2 separate regions of the Homo sapiens genome follow, and region 1 is linked to region 2. The links come from fine-mapping of genetic effects on gene expression. A gene starts in region 2. The other region holds a variant in brackets. All regions are shown on one strand. Distances are from middle to middle.

Region 1 (11,654 bases), 86 kb after region 2:
AGTATAATACAGTGCTAAATTTGACATGCAAGCTCTCTTAGTAGGCATGCAGGTTTGTAAAAGTGGCACATCCAGGCTAATGTGCCATCTGATAGATTGCTTATAAGCCATGCTCTGCTTCTCCTCCCCTTAGAGTGACCAAACATGAAGATGTAGACAAGGATTTGTGTACAGTGTTACATGGCTGTTTATCAAAACTTAATTTGTAAAAGTGAAAATGTTGAAACAACTACATGTCCAGCAATTGGGGAATGGGTAAATAAAATTATAGTAAATCTTTATGTGTTGGAATTTTATGCAGTCATTTAAAAAAAAATTAGTGAGTGGTATAGAAAAATGCTCAAGTGGGCTGGGTGCAGTGGCTCACACCTCTAATCCCAGCACTTTGGGAGGCCGAGCAGGTGGATCACTTGAGGCCAGGAGTTCAAGACCAGCCTGGCCAACATGGTGAAACCTCATCTCTACTAAAAACACAAAAATTATCTGGGCATGGTGGTGTGTGCCTGTAATCCCACCTCTTCAGGAGGCTGAGGCATGAGAATCACTTGAACCCGGGAGGTGGAGGTTTCAGTGAGCTAAGATCACACCAATGCACTCCAGCCTCGGGGACAGAGTGAGACTCTGTCTCAAAAAAAAAAAAAAAAATAAAACTCAAGAGAGGCTACAAAAGTATGTATGCCATGTAATCCAAATGTTAATACAGAATTCATGGAGAAAGAATAGAAGGAAAATGCTAAAATGTTTACAGTGATTTTCTTTGGTTGGTTGAATTTTAGGTGATTTTCATTTTCTTTATATATATTTTTTGCATGTGTTTTTCAACTTTAATTGGCTGTGTAATTTCTAGAGAGATGTGATTTTGCTCAGAAAATAAATTTTGAAATTGAAAATGTTAACCAAAGTGATGATGACTCCCATGGTTATAAGGGTTCCAGATAGGAATCTCATAGGCAGTAGTCTAGAAAGGATACTGGGATTAGATTTTCTTGGCTTACATTCTGCCTGGACATCTTAGTCCATTGATGTTGCCGTAAAGGAATACCTGAGGCTGGGTTTGTAAAGAAAAGAGGTTTATTTGGCTCATGGTTCTTCAGGCTATACAAAAAGCATGGTGCTGGTGTCATGGCGAGGGCCGCAGGCTGCTTCCCCTCTTGCTGGAAGGCGAAGGGAAGCCAGTATAAAAATCACATGGCGAGAGAGGAAGCGAGAGAGAGGGAAGGGAGGTGCCAGGCCCTTTCTAACACCAGCTCTCTCAGGAACTAGTAGAGCAAGAACTCATTACCTCGAGGACAGCACCAAACCATTCATGAGGGATCTGCTCCATGACTCAGATACCTCCCATTAGGCTCCCCCACCACCATCGGGGATCACATTTCAACCAGAGAGTTGGAGGGGGTCCAACATCCAAACTGTAGCACTAGACAGACTTGTAGAATCTTTAATCAAGGTGGGTATCACTGGATTTTGGGGACTGTGATTTCTAGAAGAAGAAACTATACTTTTTAAATTTATTAGAACTTTTAAAATGGAATAAGTAGGTACATGGGTAGAGAGACAGATGGATATAATCTACTTCCTTTTCAGTAGCCCTTGCATAGCATTCCATTCTAAAAGCTAATAAAAAATTAATCACCACTGTACCGTTGTCAGGGAGGGAGTTCTCAGGACGAAGCATAAAGAACAGATTGTTGAGGGAAGAGGGTTTGGACGTGTGTTGTTAAGGATCTTTAGACACGATCTGGAAGAAGGAGTTCACAGTGAAATCGTGAAATTGCTGATCTGCCAGAAGTTTCCCGTGGTGAAGGAGGGGTCCAGCAGCTGTGTCCAGAGCACAGGGCAGTGTTACAAACCCATACGTGTGGACAGAGAAGTAGCAGCTGCATGTTGCCAATGGCAAATGTAGAGACCAGCAATTTAAATGGCACATGTAAAATAAGGAGCTCGGAGCCCTCGCTGATCCTTTTCTCAGGACAGAAGCTCAGAGTTTTGCTGGAGTCTAAAGGGGTAATCACATTGTTGCATATTATTAGAGAAATAGAGTGAAATGAAAAGGTACGATATGTCAAGTGTGCTAGATTTTGAAATAAGGGCATAAAAAACTGTCTTTTAACACCAGAAAGAGAGAAGTTTTGGGATGAATCAAAGTATTATTTGACCCACAAGATTATGAATTTATGAGGTTTATTGTCCATAGACCTGTGGTGGGTGGGGGTGATTTTGTCCTCCAGGGTGCATCTGGCAGTGTCTGGGGATGTTTTTGGTTGTAACTTGGGTGGTGCAGGATGGGGGTACCTGGTGGGTAGAGGGCAGGGATACTACTAACCATCTACAGTGCACCCCATGTCAAGGGATTGTCAGTAGAGCTGAGGTTGAGAAGCCCTGCCCTAGCAGAATGAGGAGGAAATACCAATAGGCTGAAGAAAGGATTGGGTAGAACCATTAATAGTTTCAGAGAACCAGGGATGTACCTAATCCTACAGTTAATGTTGGGAGGATGATGCTCTCTTATGACGTGGTCAGCACATCAGAGATTGTGGGGATGATTTTAGACCACCTGGACTCGCCAGCCCTGGTTCTGTGCAGCCTCCCTGCCCCTTGGCCCCAGAAAAGATGTAGAGCGAGATGAAGCAACCTGTTACTCCACACAAAGGAACTCCCCACTGTCCCTCTTCCCATCAACAGAGAGCACCATGGTGATTCTGGGCCCCTGAATGGCTTACGGAGCTTATTATGAGGATTGGAATAAATCCTGAGTGACACAGCCAGGATTCAGCAACCTGAGAGAGGGCATCTAGAAACATGAGCTTCTGCAATGTGAATGGTTTCTGCTATCTTTCAGGTGGTAAATGTGTCGAGGCTGGAGGGAGATGACAATCCGGTACAGCTCATCTACTTTGTGGAGGATCAAGATGGAGAAAGACTCAGTGCAGTCAAGTCTTCGGACCTGATTAACAAAATGGACCTCCAGAGAGCAGCCATCATCTTGGGTTACCGAATTCAAGGTGTCATTGCCCAGCGTAAGTGCCTGAGGTGTTGTCGTCTGTGCTGTGCTGTGCTGGGCACCAAAGCCAGGCTCGTTCTGACAGTGAGCTCTGAATGTAAAGCATTCCGATGTGTGTATAACCCTGATGGTGAAGTGCCAGTTGTTAAAATTCATTCACCAAGACCTTCTTTATTTGGATTTCAATTGCTTGTAGGTTTAGCCTCCACTGCTGTTTTTTCTACCTAGCATTTTGTAGGTGGGGTGTTAATAATGATTTATAGTACATCAACTTTAATATCTGTCCCTCATTCCTGTACTACTACTTTTTTTATAAATTTTGTCTAAGGCAAAATAATGTGTTTGCTCTGTATTTATTCCAAAATCTTCTGTGTCATATTTTGAACATTGGCGGGGACAGTGAGTCATGCAGGAAGCTGGGAGGTGCACCCTGAATTTATTGGTTTCCTTCAGGGTCTTTTAACACAGAGAAGTCCTTGATCCTTCCCCTTTTCAGTCCTGTTTCTCTCCCACCTATCCTCACGTCACTCCACAGTGTAGACAGAGGTATTTTGAAGTTTCTTTATTATTGTTGGAAGGTTTCACTCCTGCCTGCCTGGCCCTGGCTGCTGTCAGTAGTTTCCTTTCCACCTCACAGATTTGTTTGCTTTTTTTTTTTTTTTTTTGAGATGGAGTCTCACTCTGTCACCAGGCTGGAGTGCAGTGGTGTGATCTCGGCTCACTGCAACCTCTGCCTCCCGGGTTCAAGTGATTCTCCTGCCTCAGCCTCCCAAGTAGCTGGGACTACAGGAGCACACCACCATGCCCAGCTAATTTTTGTATTATTAGTGGAGACGGGGTTTCACCATGTTGGCCCGGATGGTCTCGATCTCTTGACCTTGTGATCTGCCTGCCTTGGCCTCCCAAAGTGCTGGGATTACTGCAGGTGTGAGCCACTGCACCCGGCCCCACCTCACAGATTTTGAGTATTTAAAATTGAAGAAAAAGGAGGCACATGGAAGAGTGTATTTTTCTAAATAGTCCTTTACGGTGTGAATCAGATTCCTCTTTTTTTTTTTTTTTTTTTTTTTTTTTTTTTGAGAAAGGGTCTTGCTCTGTCACCCAGGCTGGAGTGCAGTGGCTTGATCGTAGCTCACTGCAGCCTCAAACTCCTGGGCTCAGGTGATCCTCCTGCCTCAGCCTCCTGAGTAGCTAGGACCACAGTCACCACCACTACACCCAGCGATTTTTTCTTATTATCTGTAGAGACAGGGTCTTGCCATGTTGCCTAGGCTGGTCTTGAACCCCTGGCTCAAGCAATCCTCCCACCTTGACCTCCCAAGGTGTTGGAATCCCAACCATGAGCCACCACACCTCTTTTAATGTCAGTGTTTTTCCTTTGTGATCCTGCAAGCAGTCTTGGTAAGAGAATGGTGAAACTTGCTCCCAGCAATAAAAGGAGAGGTAAATGTTTAGAGGGAATTCAGCATCAGAGAATACAGAAAAATCTTTATGGAGAACATGTAGGAGATAAAGACAATTTTTAAAAAATGATAGCTTTTAAATTATCCTTGATAGTAGAAGGTTTTTATGAAATCTGTACTTGTCCCTGGAGACCAACCAAGATGAGAGCTGATGGGCATAATTTCTCTATTTTATGGAAGATGATGGGAGGGTTTAAGCAAATAACCATTGGCAATTTGTGTTTGTGTATGTGAGATATGATCACATATTGATGTGTTCTCCTCCAAAGCAGTGAGCAAAAAATAGCAAAAGCACTTCGTTACAGTTCTTCATATATGCGATTCCTGATTGTAGGAGACGTGCCCTACTCCAGCCAAGCACTTGACATTTTAAACAGCTAATTGCAATAGAATATGGGCACCTTTCAGATGTGATCTTGCACCTCTTTTCCTCAGTTTTGTACCGAAAACCACGTGGGTAAAGATCCTGGGATCTCAGGGATGGCGATTGAAGGAAGCCTCAGCCAACACCAGGGATAGCCCAAAGGCAGCCCCAGGACACTGGTGTCAGGGTCCAGTTTGATCAACCTCTGCCTCATCAGGGTTTTCCTAGGTTAGAGTAAGAAGAGGGCAGGTGTGGTGGCTCACACCTGTAATCTCAGCACTTTGGGAGATAGAGGCAGGAGGATCAGTTGAGCTCAGGAGTTCAAGACCAGCCTGGGAAACATAGCAAGACCCCATCTCTACAAATAATAATAATAATAAGCTAGCTGGGCATGGTGGGGCATGCCTGTGGTCCCAGTTACTTGGGGGGTCTGAGGCAGGAGGATCACCTGAGCCCAGGAGGTCGCGGCTGCAAGTGAGCTTGATTGTGCCACCACATTCTAGCCTGAGTGATAGAGTGAGACCCTATCTCAAAAAGAAAAAAAAAAAACAACCACACCCACAAAAGAACTAAGAAGAGTGTCCAGTTGTCTCAGCTTCTCAGTTTGATTCTGTCCGTACTTCTATATTGTCCGTTGCTTTTATGCAAAATGAGCTACATATATTAACTATATTCAGCCCAAATTAAAAAACACAAGTTTTTCACTTTGTTGCTTTTTACCACATCCCATGCAGCCTGTGCTCTAATCTGTGCTTTTTTCCCTGGTGCATTTGATTTAGAATGCTTGCTCCCTCCCTTGCCACTCCCTTAGGTGTCTAAACCCAAAGTTAAACCAGCACCAAGAACCCTTTTTGTTATTACGTCTTTGAGCAGATACCTTTTGATCCCATAGCAGGTGTTAACCATCATAGGGTATGAAAGGAGCATAAGACTTAGTCCCTGCCCATGAAAACTAAGATGTTTTTGAAAAGACAAGATTTGGCGTCAAGACCGGATGAATGAGTGCAGAAGCGTAGCACTTCACGGATTATCCATTTATATAACAGGAAGCATTTTAAATGAGCAGTAAGGCACCATGTGCAAAACAAAGAGCTAGTGAAGGACATGAAGTGGCCGAGGAGTTGAAGTGCAACTGTCCTATGCCGTGAAAGAGAAGTGGGGGCCGGGTGGGGTGGGTGTGGCAGCAGGGTGGGGAGTGGTGGATCCAAAATGAGTAAGATATGCTTCGTGTAAAAGTG[G/A]ACAACTGGTAGCTTAAATAATGCCGTTTCGATGAGTCATGTTTCAAAGGTTTAGGGAGAGACACAGGTGGGGCAATGAAGGCAGTGCCTATGGGACGCTTATTAGGACTTCAGTTTCCAAATTAACACAGTGAAGCTTCATTTTGGAAAACATAAGGATCATCTTCCTTCTTTTTTTATTGCAGTAAAATATACATCAAGAAATGTACCAATTTAACACTTTTAAATGTATACTTCAGTGGCATTCAGTACGTTCACAAGGCTGTGTAACCATCACCACTATCCATTTCCAGAATTTCTTCATCATTCCAAGCAGAAGCTTTCTATGAGTTTTTTTCTAGATACCTCATGTAGGTAGAATCATACATTTTGTCCTTTTGTGACTGGCTTGTTCCATTATCATGATGTTTTCAAGGTTCATCTGTGCAGCAGCATGTATAGAATTTCCTTCCCTTTTAAAGCTGAATGATATTCCATTGTATGGCTATACTACATTTTGTTCATTCATTCATCTGTGGATGGGCATTTGAGTTCTTTTCATCTTTTAGGCTGTCGTGAATAGCGCTGCTACGAACATCAGCATCTCTTTGTCATTTTTCATTGCTGAAGGGGAAACGACCAGTTGCACTGGTGCACATGTCGTATCTCCTTACTCTGTTTTGCTTTGTGTTTGGCACTAGTGCAATATGAAATTATTCGGTGATTCATTTACTTGATCATTTCTCCTTTCCCCCACTAGGACTTAAGCACCTCAAGGGATTTCGCTTGTTCATGGTTGAGTCCCAGCTTACAAACTGTGTCCAGCACACTTAATAAACATTTGTGAACATGAGAAACTTGGAGTAGTGAGGGAAGGGAGAAAGAGATGAAGGGTTTTCTTCCATAAACTCCTAGTTGAGATGCATGTGCTTTATGTGATCTAGGAGGGTGTGAGTCCTGCGGTACTTGATGGAGCGGGCAGGATTATGTTCTGGAGACACAGCTGTTTTTCTCTCCACTTTTGAAGAGAACTGCCTTTGTACAAAGTTGTGCAGAACCAGTTTTGGTGTGGAAATATCCTGCAGTGATAAGTTACGGGTGAGCTAGTAGAATAAACTGGAAATCAGGAGACCTGGAATTAACTGAGCTTTGCCATTAATTCAGCCATGTACCTTTGGATATATCCATATGTCGTTGTGATCCCTGATGTATTCTAGATGTAACATTGTATGTTGTGTTTCTCTGCTGGTCACATTTCCTGTCATCAGGAGATTAGAACCTGGAACCAGCTATCTTGAGCTGGAATGTCAGGGACTTCTGAGTTTCTCATAGAAGACACGTGCAATCTAGTGCATGAGTGAAGAAGGAATTATTGAAAGACCTTTCTTCCTTGTCTGCAGCTGTCGACAGGGTGAAGAGGCCGTCTCCGGAATCCCAGAGCAACAACTTGTGGGTCATTGTTGGCGTGGTCATCCCAGTGCTGGTGGTGATGGTGATTGTTGTCATCCTCTACTGGAAACTATGCCGCACAGACAAGCTAGACTTTCAGCCTGACACTGTGGCCAACATTCAGCAGCGTCAGAAGGTAACGGGCAGCCTCTTCCCCCAGTGTTCCTATAAGCAGTTTTGTGGGGCAGGGATAGGATGAGTTTGGGCTCTTGATACTGAAAGATGAGGAAGAGGGAGGGCTATTATGGAAATCTTCTGGCTTTAATAGTGGTATCACTTTGCCTTTGTTTCTGCTTCCTGAAACCCTCCTTCTGTGGTAGTAAATACAGTCCAAGAATGTGAAACTGTATAAAAGCCTAGCCATGACATGCCCTCCGGGTTCTACTATGATTTTATTTTGTATTTTTTGAGACAGAGTCTGGCTCTGTCACCCAGGCTGGAGTGCAGTGGCGTGAGCTTGGCTCACTGCAGCCTCCGCCTCCTGGGTTCAAGCGATTCTCCTGCCTCGGTCTCCGAATAGCTGAGATTACAGGCGTGTGCCACCACACCTGGCCAGTGTTTGTATTTTTAGTAGAGACAGGGTTTTGCCATGTTGGCGAGGCTGGTCTCGAACTCCTGGCCTCAAAAGATCTGCCTGCCTTGGCCTCCCGAAGTGCTGGGATTACAGGCATGAGCCACCGCACCAGGCCGAATTCTGATTTATTTTATCCCTGGATATTTTCAGAGGATAGGAGCCAAGGCAGACTTTCTCAGATCTGTTTATCTATTTTGTGTACAACTCCATTGGTCAGTTGCTTTATTTTCTGTTCACCCTATTTGGAAGCCCACTTACCCACCTTGATCATTAAAAACGAACAATACATACCTTGAACATTTTAACTTAAAATATATGAATGGACATTTATTTGCCAATCCTTCAACATATCCCAAGTCTTGTTTTGTTTTGAGTGTTGGTCTACTGAGAGGAATTGTGTTTGGTCTTTCTTACAATAAACAACACCCATGACGTGTCAGTTTCAGGTTCCAGTTTGGGTTTCTTTAGAGAAGAGCAAAGCTACCTGAATGCAAAGTTCTCTCGATTTTTAATACCTCCCCCCACTCCCTATCTTAGAGAAGAGCAAAGCTACCTGAATGCAAAGTTCTCTCGATTTTTTTAATACCTCCCCCCACTCCCTATCTCCTAATTTTGCAGACTTTTGAGTTAATTCACTCACACCTAATTTGACAGCAGATTTTTTAAGTAACCCCTCTTTCCTATGTCTTTCCAAAGCATTCAACTTAAGTGTTTATAGAAATAGCAATTTTCTTTTCCAACGTATGTTTCAACAGTTTCCATAGTATTCGAGGGTCACATCAGGTTTCAGAGCAAAGACATTGACTTTTGGTCAACATTGAGCTCACCTGGTGTGAGCAAAAACATGCCAGGCCTAGAGGAGCACTCACTAGTACAGCATAAGTATCAGTCAGCGTGTTTACCAAGGGAGTGGAACGTGGTAGTCAGTCCACTGTTACTAACAGTCTGCTGGATTAACATGCACTTTCCGTGGGTCTCCCAGATTTGGAGGACTCATCCTGCTTTAAAAGCTTGATAAAAACAAGCAAAAGTCAAAAAACAAAGAATAAAAGATTGCCCTATTTATTTTTAAACTTTATTTTGGTTGTCTTGGGTATGAAAAATTCTGCATATTACAAACCTAGACCTGTCGAATGGAAAAAAAATATGCATTACTTTAAAATTTATTTTACTTTTGTAAAAGCAAAGAAAGAGTATTTGTCTTTTCATATGAATTAACAAAAAAATGCAAAGTATTTATTAAATTGCAAGCTTATGGCTATCAAGTACATGAAAAGCATTTTATACATTAATGTTATGTTTGTTGCCTATCTTTGTTTATTATTTACACAGTCTGCTAAGGTTCTTTTGTTGTTCTTGTTATACTGGTGAATGGCATGGGGAAACCTGGAAAAAAAGTGCTGGGTATACTAAATGATTCATAGTGTGAATTTCACTGTAATAAGATCAACAATAGGTTTGGAAATGTTTTTGTTCTGTTGAAGAGTGTTGTTACAGAGGGAGTTAACCAGTGTAGACGGTTATGTATTTAGGTCTTTTATGGGCCACATTTCCTAACGTATACACTGCCATGGAAGTCCATCTATTATCTGTAACTTCAGTAAATTATCAGAGCACAGCGTCTCTTGGGGTCAAAATGGAATATTCCCCAAGCTTTCTCCTTCTCTCACTTTTACTTCCTAAACATTTTCAAGTCCCAGATGTGGCTGTAAATCAAATGGACAGAGTTTCAGATGGAACTTCCAGCCCTTAGAGCTGCTCTTTTTCCTTCAGGGCTGCAAAGACCTGCCCATACATCCTGACAACAGGTTTACAGAAAAGGTCCTGCAGGGAGGATTCCCCAAAAGAATAACTGTCTTCTGACACTGTTAGGAGGGCAAAGCCTTGCCAGTGTTGCAGAAGCTCAGTCGTGTTTTGCTGGCACAGGAACCCACCCTATAGATTTTGTCGTGTGTTTAAAATGGGAAAATGATCTCTTCATTTAGTTTAAAAACAAATGTCTTTAGTTCATACGTGTTTCTTTTAAGGTCATGTGGCCATAGCAAAGGGCCTCTAGCCTCGTCCTCAGGGTAATGTGCAGAGATGTCACCCTCCCCTATGACTTCAAGAGCTCTGTCTCCTGCTCATGTGGCTGTTGTCTCTCTCTCCGTTCTGCTCTCCCCACCTCCTGATGCGCCTCACCATACTCTCGGAAATCCTTCAGCAAATCCCAGAGCTGCAAACATCTGGAAACAATAAATCTGCTGACCTAAAATCTGCACCCCCCTTCCCCTCGTAACGAGAAGGAAACCTCTTCAGATTGTCTGGGAGTAGATTAATTTTGAAATATGATAGGAGGGAGAGGCCATTCTGTCTTGTTTTGAGGCACAGCCTTTGCTTATTTTCAGTAATAAAGAAGAAAACCCCATGCTTTCTTTTATCTGTATTCTCTATCTGTAGACTCAAGTCATCATTTGTTACTGTTGCCTAAAAAACTCCAGCCCGGATCCTCTTCATCATGAATGGCATTGGCTGGATGCCACTGGCCTCATGGAAACTTATTCCTTCTGATGGGGGATAGTCCACACCTCGTTACTGGTGTCAGACCAGAGCTCCTGACTGCCCTTGGTTGCTTCTAAAGGGCAGCACTTTGGGCAACCGGCTGGAGCTGCCTCAGGCACTGGGTGTCACTCACCAAACATTGAGCATTTGCTGTGAGCCACACCAGATCCGGCTCAGTTACCAACACAAATAGCACGCGATCTCTGCATTCCAGGGCTTTAGCAAGGGAGAAGGACGAGCCATCCGAAAGCAGACATCCAGGAGTATAAGGATGTCTGGAGAACACAGAGGAGGGGGGCACCCCATTTGCAGTGGTGGGGTACTTCTACCTTCTTCAAGGAGGTGACACCAGGGCTGAAGCTTCACGGTGGAGATGAAGGCGGGCCCAGTGGGGGAGCGGAGGGCAGCTCAGGAAGCTAGAGCAAAGGTCATAAAAAAGGGCACAGCCGAAAGCCAGGTGGCAGAGAGCCAGGCCCTGGGGGGTTTTCAGGACATAGAAGGGATTGCAAATTATGCTGTAAGCAGTGGGCAAGCATTGAAAGGTTTTCAGCAGGGAGAGCAGCTTGAACACATTTGCTTTTGGAACGATCCCTTTGGGAGGCAGTATGGACAGTGAATTGAAAAGAGGCTCTGTGAGCATATCGTTCCATCTCAGCCAAGGTCAGCTCATTCCCTATGGTTGCTGTTTGATTCTCTGCAAAGGTCGCCTGTCACACCTAACGTGTAGGTGGTCTCAGTTCACCCACAGCTGGCTGACCGTGCCGGGTGTCACCTGTGGGTGGGAGAATCTGGGAGCCCTGCTCTCCCAAACTCCGGGACCACAGGGTTACGGGAGTGCCCGTGTGGGGCTGCACTGAAGACAAACAGATGGCAATAACTTTGCCTTGTCTCCACTTCCTAAATGGAAGCAGCATGGTGGTTGTGGTGACGTTTCACAAATGACATCAATCAGGTAATAAATGCTTTCAATGGCACTCGCTACATGATGGCAAATTTTTGTTCAGACACTTTTGGGATTTGCTCTGTGTTTCTATTGTCATCTCAA
Region 2 (11,654 bases):
ACCTGGGAAGACAGTTGGGCAGTTTAAATTTACATTTATCACGCCACCCAGTTAAATTTACATTTATCACATGACTTAGCAGATCTACTCCTAGGTATTTACCCAAGAGAAATGAAAACATATGTTCACACAAAATACCTGAAAACAAATGTTTTTAGCAGCATTATTAATAATGACCAAAAACCTGGAAACAATCCAAATGTTCATCAGTTGGTGACTGGACAAATTGTGGTATATCCATTCAATGGAATACTACTAAGCAATAGAAAGGAACAAGTTACTGACGCATGCAACAACTTGGATGAATCTCAGACATTATGCTAAGTAAAAGAAACCAGACACAAAGTGCTACATACTATATAATTCCATTTATGTCAAATGCTGGAAAAGGCAAAGCTGTAGAAACAGAAATCAGATCAGTGGCTGTCAGAGGGAGGGTATGGGATAGACTGCAAGCTGGCACAAGGGAACTTTAAGGGCAATGTAAATGTTCTTTACCTTGAATGTGGTGGTGGTTATAGGATTTCATAGAATTGTTGAAACTCACTGAACATTTTTAAAAGGTGAATTTTCATCAAACTGCTTATGATTGTGGATAGCTTTGTTCTTTGCTTCTTGTGTTTTTCAGTTTCCTGAATTGTACATATTAACTTTTAAAAAATAAAGATTATTTTTAAAACCTGAAAAAAAAAAGGCGAACTTTTATTTATTTATTTATTTATTTTTTGAGACAGAGTCTCGCTCTGTCACCAGGCTGGAGTGCAATGATGTGATCTCTGCTCACTGCAACCTTCGCCTTCCGGGTTCAAGCTATTTTCCTGCCTCAGCCTCCCGACTAGTTGGGATTACAGGCACGCACCACCACACCTGGCTAATTTTTGTATTTTTAGTAGAGACGGGGTTTTGCCAGGTTGGTCAGGCTGGTCTCAAACTCCTGACCTCGTGATCCACCCATCCTGGCCTCCCAAAGTGCTAGGATTACAGGCATGAGCCACCACGCCTGGCCAAAAAAGGTGAATTTTATCTGATTAAATTACCTGACTAAATTTGCCAGCTGAATTAAACTTGACTTGAAAAAAAAAAAAGGAAAAGGAAGTGAGCTGATTTTATATTTTGATAGATAAGGTCAAATTATCCTCCAAAATGGCTACACCAGTAGAATTCGAGAGTGCCTATTTTGCTATACACTTGAATATACAAATGAATATAATCAAAATTTTAAAAGTTTTGTCTGTTTGATGGTGAAAAATATTTTGATCCTTGATATTCATGCAGCAGCATTAAGATCTTGTTCTGGCTAGGTGCAGTGGCTCACGCCTGTAATCCCAGCACTTTAGGAGGCCGAGGCAGGCGGATCTCGAGGTCAAGAGATGAAGACCAGCCTGGCCAACATGGTGAAAACCCGCCTCTACTAAAAATACAAAAAAATTAGCTGGGCGTGGTGATGTGCGCCTGCCGTCCCAGCTACTCGGGAGGCTGAGGCAGGAGAATCGCTTGAACCGGGGAGGTAGAGGTTGCAGTGAGCATAGATTGCGTCACTGCATTCCAGCCTGGTGACAGAGCTAGACTCCATCTCAAAAAAAAAAAAAAAAAAAAAATCTTGTTTTAATTGGTCTCCTCTTTAGTCTTTTCTCTTTCCAAATCATCTTATATAATGTTAATAGAGTAATCCTTCTTGTGCTTAGTTCTAATAATATCTGAACAAATCTTTAATGATCCACCGTCACCTACAAAATTAAGTCCAAACCCTTCAGCCAGATCTTTAAGCTCTCCTTGTTCTATATCAGCTTCCCTTTTCTCTCTTCTCTGCTGCGCCTCTCTAGGTCTGGTATGTCTTACCACTTTCAGTAAGTGATTATAAAGTCTCACTCTTAGACATCTAGCTCAATGGTTCTTACACACTGGAATCCTGGGAAGCTTTTAAAAGACAGGGCTGTCCAAGCCTGGTCTGCAGAGATTTGGATTTTACTGGTCTGAAGTGTGGCCTGGGGGTGTTCTGTTTTGTTTTGTTTGTGGTGTCCAGGTGATTTTAATTTGCAGTCAGCATTGTGAACCACTGCTCTAGCTGATCTGGCCATCAGCTAGATAAATTTCATGCATTCCTGCCTTTATATTTTTGTACTGTTGGTTCCCTCCACCTGGAACACCTGTCCTGTTCTCTTTAGCTGTCCAAGTCCTCTTCATTTTTTAGGCGCCCCCTAACACCCAGCTTCCATGCAACACTACACTGAAGCTTTGCTTGATCTCTTGTGCCAAATATGATTTCTACTTCTTTGAACTTTTTTTTATAACTTCCTTCGGACATCTGTCATGTTCTACTTTGCAATATGTAGGTTTTTAAAATTTGTTTTTTTTTTTCCCGTAAGACTGTAAGCTCCTTGAAAAAACTGTAGACAATTATTATTTTTTTTTTTTTTGAGGCAGGGTCTAGCTCTGTTGCCCAGGCTGAAGTGCACTGGCATGATCACGGCTCACTGCAGCCTTGACCTCCTCAGGCTCAGGTGATCCTCCCACCTCAGCCTCTCGGGTGGCTGGGACTACAGGTGCACGCCACCATGCCTAGCTAATGTTTTGGATTTCTTCATAGAGATGGGAGTCTCACCATGTCGCCCAGGCTGGTCTCAAACTCCTGGGCTCAAGCAATCCACCTGCCTCAGCCTCCCAAAGTGCTAGAATTACAGACGTGAGCCACTGTGCCCGGCCTAATTAATCTTACTGATCATTTAGCACATGACTCTACGGGGCGCTTACTTAGTAGGGACTCAGTAAATATTTTTTGAATGTTTATTCTGGCTACTTCTCCACTTTGCACAGTTGTTCCCTCTGCCTGACACCCTCTTCCCCAGCTATCCCCATGGCCCAATGTCACCTTAGTAGGGTGATCATCCCTGACTATTCTATTTAACACAGTAACACTGACCCTTCCCTCACTCCTTTTCCCTCTTTGTTATTCTGCAAATTGTTGTCATCAGCCGAAGGCTCACTTACTGATTGCCTGTCTCCTCTCACTAGAACATAAGTTCCACGAGGAAGGGCCTTTGTTTTGTTCACCGTTATACCTCCAGTGCCCACTGCACTGCCTGGCATATGGTACATGCTCAAAAAATATTCATTGAATTTAATGAATGACCTTTGTGAACATTCATCTTATTTTGTATAATTCTCTTAAGAACCGAACCCACAGCTAAGCAAGGTAGGCATGTGAAGCCCATCATCAGATAAGAACATTTGAGGTTTGAGAGTAGGGTGAAGCATTTTGTTCAAGTTCATAAACTTTTCTGTGACAGAGCAGAACGCAGAACTCAGCTGTCCTGATTCCTATTCTAGGACTCTCACACTACCCTCTACCGACTTCCAGCCATCCTCTAACTTCAGTCCCTCTGTCCCATCCTTATCCAGACCCTAAGAATTGAGGGGCCCAGGTCAAGAGTGCAAATAGGGGCTCACGCAGCCCATTTCACATTTGGCCATTTTGGCCATTTCACATCGATGACCAGATTTTCATCAGCAAGTTACATGCCAAGCAAGCAAACTATTAAATATGTCTGTTCTACCTTAACAAACGTATGTCTTCAGAATGGTTAGGCTGGTTCACAGGCAGGATTCGCAGACTTCCTGCAGTTGTGAGCAGAACATCGCAGCCAGGTTGCCATGTGAATATGGGCCATGCCCGATCTTCTCTTCCCATCCCTGGTCCTCTGCTTCATTCCTATAGGTTTCATGTGCGCATCTTTAGAGATGCCTCCTGCGTAAGTTTTGCCACTCCCTAGCAAACAACTACCCCGTGGGACCAGACACACCCTTGGTGCAGCCTTGGGAGAATGGACTTGAGGAAGAGGCCACATAGGCCTGAAGATGAGCCTGGGGTGAAATGGGCAGGATTCTGGGGTCCTGGGCACCTGAGCATGGGAAGATGGGCTGCTGGTGAGGGTGCTTCCTGGGCTTCACAGACTCTGTCCTGAGGAGAGAGGTGCAGTTTGAGAAGGCCAGAGTGGGGCCCGCTTCGTCTAGGTCTAAGGATAGTACTGAGCCTACCTCTCCCTGTCTCCAAACCAGATTGTAAGCCTATCGAGGACCCAGGTTAATTTTCCCCCTCCCCTGGAGGGTGTGTGGTTTAACTGGAGACGACAATTCCAGTTGGAGTTGAGCCTTATGGAAATAAACTAACCTCTCTGGCTTGTTTCTTTATCTATGAGAATTGGATGAGATGATCTCTAAAATCGATTTTAAAATCTTACACACACACACACATTTGCACACACTCCCCTACCTCCAAGGACCACTCATCCCCTCTGAGTCTGCAGAGTAACACCACCTACCAGCTGGACTGTCAGAGCCTGGTAGACATTTTCCCAGACATGGAGGCAGAATGCCTTAAATCCTAACAGAGGTAAGATTTTGTTTTATGCCTTCAGAGCTGGGAGACTAAGGGACCCTAGGGACCTCACTTTCCACGGACACTTTGGTGTCCATGAGTCATTTCTAGTATCTCAGGGTTCCAATTTTTATTTTTACTTCCAGCTGATCAATCTCTTAATGGCAGGGCAAACACTATTGTCTTTGAGTTTGCAGAGAATGGAGAAGGAGACTCCTTTCTTTTTTCTTTTCCTTTTTTTTTTTTTTTTTTTTTTGAGATGGAGTCTTGCTGTGGCACCCAGGCTGGAGTGCAGTGGCGTGATCTTGGTTTACTGTAACCTCCGCCTCCTGGGTTCAAGTGATCCTCCTGCCTCAGCCTCCTGAGTAGCTGGGATTACAAGCACGTGCCACCATGCCTGGGTAAATTTTTCTGTGTTTTTATTAGAGACGGGGTTTGCCATGTTGGCCAGGCTGGTCTTGAACTCCTGACCTCAGGTGATCTGCCTGCCTTGGCCTCCCAAAGTGCTGGGATTATAGGCGTGAGCCACCGCGCATGGCCGAGGGAGGCTTTTTTCTCTGACACCAACGGGTCTAGTGTAGATGGCAGCTTGCAGGAGGCTGAGGCCAAATCTGAAGATGGAACCTCTTCACGGGCGGAATGCATGCTCTGGCTCAAACCAACGATTGTCTACTGAGGGCTTACTGGGGCTATGAGAAATCCTAAGCAGGATAGCACCATATTTGAATTTCATATTAATTTATTGGAGGTGGGGTGGGGGCTGTGTGTGCAAAGCATAAATTCATAAAAGATAAAACAACACAACAGGACAAGACCATTCAAGAGTTGCACGAAGGCAGTGGTTTGTGGTCAAATGTGCTGTTATAGAGAGTTCAGAGAATAAAGATAAGTGTGTGAATAAGAGGTCCCAGATCTATGGCCATGGTGTCCTGGGACCAGACATATCTGGGCAGTTTCTCTTAGGTACTTACCTGGGTGTGCACGCAGAACCCTCTTTGGGAGACAGGAGCAGTTACTGTAATAAACATAGGGGCTGTATGATGGGGGGTTACAATAACGTGTAAAAACACCAGGAACATCAACAAAAGCTTTTTTTAACCTTTATTCTCATTTTCCTTGAAACTACCAGGTTTCAAGTACCCACCTGTAAGGACCAGGTGTGTACCTACAGAAGAGTGCCCCTGTCCTATTCTTAGGAAGAACTATTCGCCAAGGGCAAGGAGTCCAGAAGAGTTGGAGCTGCAAGGCTGGGCAGCCCCTTCAAGGGCTGGGCCTGGCAGGGGAACCCGACTGAATAGCCGCGAGGATCCCTCTGCCAGTGTAATGATTCACCTTTTCCGCTGTCTGCCATAGTTTTTCTGCACGAGATAGTGTCCCCCACACACACCGTTAATATCTGCTTGATGCAACAATGCCAGTGGGATGCAACGATTCAAAACTTCCAATTCCTCCTCCCTAGACCCTGAAGCCACGGGGCGTCTTCAGAGTGACGTGCCTGGCACACAGTAGGTACTTGACAGATGTCAACTCCCTTCTTCCCGTTCCTCATTCCCCCCGCGGACTCCAACCCTCAAACGCTCTCTGGGCATTCTCTCCACCTCTCAGGAGCGCCACTTTCCCTAAAACGGCCTGGCCTTGCGGGTCTCCCCAGCTCCACGCCCATTCGCTTCAGCAGCCGCCTGCTCAAGGCCTGCTAAGTGCAGGGTCCCGCGGGCCTCCCAGGCCCTGAGCGCAGGGTCGCTTCCCGAAGACCCGCAGAGGTGGCCGCACCTTCTTAAGGCAGGAAGGCGGGGGAGAGCTGCGTGCGCTCTGCTCGCCCCTGCCTTGCACGCTGAGCTCTAGCGCAGGAGCCCGACTTTGTCTGGCTTTGTCCCCTCCGCGGCCCCGAGGCTGTCCTGAGAGCGCGGCGCCCCACACACCTGCTGCCCGCAAGGAGTCGGCGGGAGAGGAGGAGCGAGGGAGGCGAGAGGACCCCTCCCCCGGCTTGCCGGCCTACCCTGATCCGGGCGCCCCGGGGAACGCGCGGCGGGACCCGGGGTTGGGTGCGGGTCGGGGCGGCACCGCCCGGCCCAGGCCCCCCGAGCCCCTCGCGCTCCCTCCGGAAGGCGGGTCCTGGGGGAGGGCTGGGCCGCGCCGCCTCGCCGCCCTTGCCGCCTCTGCCGCGCCGAGCCCCGCGCACGCTGCCCCGGCCGCCCCGCAGGCAGGCAGGCAGGCAGGCAGGCAGGCGTCCGGCCGGCCGGGAGGGGGTGCTCGCCGTCCCGCGCCCGGGCCCGCGCGTTGCCGGGCAGCGGCTCCGAGGCTCCGAAGGGGGCGGAGCGGCAAGGCGGGCGTGCGGCTGGCGCCCCTGTCCTCGGTTCCGGCCCGGCCCGCCCCCGCCTCTCCGGCCTCCCTCCGCGCCGGTGCGCGGCGCCCCGTCCCAGCCGCAGCCGCAGCGGCCGCCCCTCCCGGACCCGAGAGCCGCTGAGCCGCGAGGCCGGGCCGGGGCGCCGGCCGGGAATGCCGGGGGCGCGGCGCCGACGCCGAGGCGCGGCCATGGAGGGGAAGCCCCGCGCCGGGGTCGCGCTGGCCCCGGGGCCGAGCGGCCGACGGCCTTCCGCCCGCTGCGCCCGCCGCCGCCGCCCGGGGCTGCTGCTTCCTGGCCTCTGGCTGCTGCTGCTGGCCCGGCCGGCCTCGTGCGCCCCAGGTAAGCTCCGCCGAGACCCTCGGAACGCGGCCGCGACCCCGCCTGCCTTTATCGCTGCTGTTTTCAAAACCCCGGCTTTCCCCGCCCATCCTCTTTTATTCTCCAGCTCCCTCGCCGTCCTTTCTGGAAGATGCTTTGCCATTCTTCTGGGGCCCAACAAATAAAGGCACGGGGGAAATAAATAATTAAAACGAACAAGCGAGCGGCTTCTGGCCGGTCTTGCTAAGGGGTCTGCAAAGCTGTTCTCTTGTCCATGGAACCCGAAGCGGGTCTGGTGGCTTCATCTCAGAATGTGCCTGGTTTTTCCTGCAGAATGCAGGCACCGGCGTGCTTTTTTGTCAAGGCTGTATGATGTGGCATATCGAATGTTTTGAGATACTTTATTGTCGGGGCGAAGAGGTGGATTCGAGGTGTGCTTTAAAAGAGTATTGCATTACCGGGACAAGCCCAGCGTCCCCCAGATGCGGGCAGGCCGGCCGTGTCCCCCCGTACAGCAGGACACAAAGAACATTCAAAGAAAACCTCTTGGAAAGCGCCCTGGCCACGGATCTTTCCAGGGAAATAGCTATTGGTATTACTTCTGCAAGGCATTATTAGTACAATGGAGTGTGAAAATATTTTGATTCTTAAGTGTCTGGGCATGAAAGGAGTAAGGGCTGTTTTTATAACAGATGCAATTTAGTGACTGTTCATCAGTATGGAATGAAGAGGCATGATTTATGAAGAAGCATAAGGGTTTTGTTGTGGAAGAAATGATTTAATTCCTATTGCTTCTCCAAAATGTTTATTTGTCCACCCTGAGCCTGTACACAGGATGGTCTGGAAACCGTCTCTGAGCTGACACTGCAGGCCAGCGATTGCCCCTGCACAGGCACTTGACCACTTTGAGGCGGAAAAGGAAAGGTGGAAGGAGCAGCTAGGGGTGGAGAGCTGCTGCACACAGAACAAAAACCAGAAAGCCGTGAACGCTGCTCCGAATCCTCCTTTCTCGTGGGAGCAGGGCCAAAGGGCTACTCAGTGGCTGGGAGGAATTGGAACACATTTGAAGGTGTCCCTTGGACCTGTGAGAATTATAACCAGTGCCCTAGAGGGGATGGTACAATAGAAGCACAGGGAGGACTTCAGGGATCATGGAACAGGTCCACTCTGCTTACCAAAGAGGAAACTAAGGCAGAGAAGTGCCTTGCTCAAGGTCACAGTCATCACTTTCCCTGCCTCCCACCCCCGCTCTTGGCCCATAGACATATCCACACCTGAAGCCTCTGCAGAGATTTCCCATAGCTGGGTGGAACCAGGGTTGGGGTGACAGAATGAGTCTCTTTTAGGCAGTATACAGCTAGTGCAAACACCTTACTCTAACCTAGGACCTCCCGTCTCAGTCCTGCTCCTGCGAGTTCCAGCCCTGTGTGTCCAGAGGAGAAGAGATCATTGTCAAGGGTCTCTTGGCTTTAGTCAACAAAGAGAGCCCATCTGATACTCGTGGATTCATCTGTCATAAGACACAGCAGATAAATGGTTTCCATCTCCTGAGTGCTTTTTGTGTGCCAGATGTTGAATTTTATATACACGATCCAATCACGTTGTGAGTTAGGCATAGTTATCCCCATTTTACAGATGAGGAAACTAAGGCTTTGAGTTTAGGTTGGTTTGGCTTCAGACTCTATGACATGCTTCCTTTCTGTGCCTGATGGCTTCCCCATATGAATGTGGCCATCTGGGTGTACTGCAGAGGTTGTGGAGAATATAAGTGCTTCTGGTAACTTTAAAATAAATAGTGAAGCTGTTTGCACTGCCCATCCCTAACCTTCTCTTCTTTGGAAGTCCTTTCCTGCTTCCCCTCTACCCCCAATACAAATATTCAACCTGGAGACATGAAATTAATAATATTTCCATTCTAGACCTGACATCATGGAAAGAGACTTCATCCTTTCACTGGTTTGTATATTGGCTTCAGCCGCTGCCAGGCTCATAGACTAGGAACTAAGAAGTGGAGGGCACAGCCCCTGTGCTCCAGGATCCAGCTGGAAACACAGAGCAGTGAAGGAAGTACAAACCCTTGCACAGACCATTCCCGGACAGGAAAGGCAGGATTCCTTATGGATGACCTGCTGGAGGTGACCCCATCTACTTGAAGACTGTGAGGAACGATCTTGGTGGAGGGTGGCTTCCTGATGTAGCTAGGGTGTGTGTAGGGTGCCTGGGCGGTGCTGTTGATCCTGGGAAGAGGGTGCGTTGCAGTTGCTTGGGCTGCCCTCCCAGTCCTGAGTGTGGTATTTTCACCAGGAGATTTGGAATGTAGGAGAGCTTTGCTGAACACTGCTGTGGTGGTTGGTTCTCTTTCTAAGGAATAAGCAGTGGTAGTCAGAAAATGGCATGGCTTAGACCTGTTTTGGACTTCCTATGTGAGGCAGCATTCCCTTCCGTGGCTGTCTGAAAGCTATCTCCTCCTTCAGCTGGCTTCTCTTGTTAACTTTTGTTCAATAGAGTCCACCTTCCAGGTGGTCCCCTTATTACAGTCTTTGGTTAAATCTCTATGTTAAATCGATTTCTTGTCTATTTGTATTTCATTCAGCATTTTGAGTGTGTTTTTTTAAAAAAAAAATTTACAAGTTTGGTCTTAACCATTGACTGTTGTGGAAACAACTTGTAATGCTTTGGACTTACTTTTGAATGCATTGCTCTTAAGTGATTAGCCATCCACAGTATAAAAACAAAGAATCATGCCCAGTTTCTTCACCTTATTCAGAGATAAGTTTTTAAAAAGTAATAGTTATTATGAAATAGATTGCTTTGTAGGGAATTTGGAAATTACTGAAAGGTACAGAAACCAGTCACCCATAATCTCACAGCCTGTAGGTAACACTAAGTAATTTTATCGTTTTTTTGTTGTTAACATTAAAAAAAGAATTATATGCACAATTGTATTTACTACCATTTCCACTCTACATTTAACTTAAGCATTTTTCCATTCATTAAGTCTTATTTGAAAACTATTTTCTATCCTAATGATTTATTCTTTTATTTCCATTTTTTGGGTTGCTGTAAGTAATGCTGATGAATAGCTACATAGAGAAGGCTCTGCTGGCCATGCGCGCTGGCTCACGCCTGTAATCCCAGCACTTTGGGAAGCCGAGGTGGGCGGATCACCTGAGGTCAGGAGTTTGAGACCATCCTGGCCAACATGGTGAAACCCCGTCTCTACTAAAAATACAGAGATTAGCTGGGTGTGGTGGCATGTGCCTGTAATCCCAGCTACTTGGGAGGCTGAGGCAGGAGAATTGCTCGAACCAGGGAGGCAGAGGTTGCAGTGAGCCGAGATGGCGCCATTGTACTCCAGCCTGGACGACAGAGCAAGACTCCGTCTCAAAAAAAAAAGGCTTTGTGCATGTTTCTTTCCGTGTGTGTGTGTGTGTGTGTGTGTGTGTGTTTTCTTGAGTATACATTTGTGGAAGGGGTATTAGAGTGTGATTAAAATGTAAGGCCCACCAGGCTGGATTTCTGCATCTTTTGTTCAAAATGCTGGGCCCCTAGTAGGTACTCAGTATGTGATTTTTGAATGAAGCAATTTTTGAAAGTTATAATGCTGACATAAGCCCTTGAAGCTTACGCAGGGGCCTTCCATTATCACTTGCATTGAGTATTCACTTCATCACTGGCATTGAATGTTACTTTAAAAGCCCTTGTTAAATAAATTTGTAATACATTGTTTTAACCTGCACGGTTTTATTGCTTTAGAATTGAATATTTTTTATTTTGTATTTGTATTCTGTGAATTTTCTCTGTATTTTTATTTATTTACCTGTTGTGGCATAGATATGTATTTAAATCTTTATGTATTAGAAGGATAGCAACCATTTTTCCTTCTATATGTTGCGTTTTCCCCTTCCAAAGGAATTTCTTTTAAATTTTACATAATTTTGAAATGTAGAAGTTTTTGGTTGTTTTGATTAGCAAGATCTGCCATTTGTTCTTTTAATAATTTTTTTATTGCATTTATGCTTATGGTGTGTGAAATTTTTTTCTTAATGTGCTGTTTTATTATTGGCCATTTCTAGGTGAATATTTATGCTTTGTGAGTCGTTTAGGATATTATAAACAAATACTTAAATGTTTCAAAAGTGTGGCCCCTAGGCCTCCTGCATCAACATCATTTGGGGATGTGGGGGTGCTTGTTAAGAATTTAGATGTCTACGACTCACCCTTAGCCTCTAAATTAGACTCTTTGGTGGCAGTGCCTGGGAATCTTCATTTTAACAAGTTGACAGCTCCGTTTTAGCCCCTGAGCATTGGAACCACTGATCCGGATATGGTAAACCCAGTAACTGAAAATTAACAGTATTTTGAAGATATAGTAGTCCCTCCTTATCTGCAAGGGATGTGGTCCAAGACCCCCAGTGGATGCCTGAAACTTTGGGTAGTACTGAAGTCTGTATATACCATGGTTTTTTCCTATATGTACATACCTGCAATAAAGTTTAATTAAAAAATGAGGCACAGTAAGAGATTAACAATAATAACAAAACAGAACAGTTCTAACAGTCTACTGTAATAAAACGTGAATATGCTGTATCTCAAAATACCTCAGAATATCTCAAA

Direction of the effects. Alleles are on the strand shown, and positions count from the first base shown. SD is a standard deviation of normalised expression in the study named.
With allele G in place of A in region 1, the expression in esophagus mucosa of the gene that starts at base 6,752 in region 2 is lower (moderate effect, 0.40 SD a copy in GTEx).

Evidence for each region. PIP is the estimated chance that this variant, and not a neighbour inherited with it, causes the effect.
Region 1: its variant is fine-mapped to the expression of KIAA1549 in esophagus mucosa (GTEx, PIP above 0.99).

What each region holds. Positions count from the first base shown.
Region 1 is chr7:138,890,318-138,901,971 of GRCh38, reverse strand. KIAA1549 reads left to right here. Exons shown (of 20, transcript NM_001164665.2): 9 at 2,840-3,017; 10 at 7,446-7,630. Among named protein-coding and RNA genes, the nearest start is that of KIAA1549, 85 kb to the left of the region's middle. The variant G/A (reference allele first, on the strand shown) is at 6,067.
Region 2 is chr7:138,976,487-138,988,140 of GRCh38, reverse strand. It overlaps KIAA1549, which reads left to right and starts at 6,752. Exons shown (of 20, transcript NM_001164665.2): 1 at 6,752-7,058. The coding sequence starts at 6,872. RefSeq lists enhancers at 5,975-6,324, 6,947-7,833 and silencers at 6,305-6,434, 6,455-6,834, 6,875-7,004, 7,844-8,138.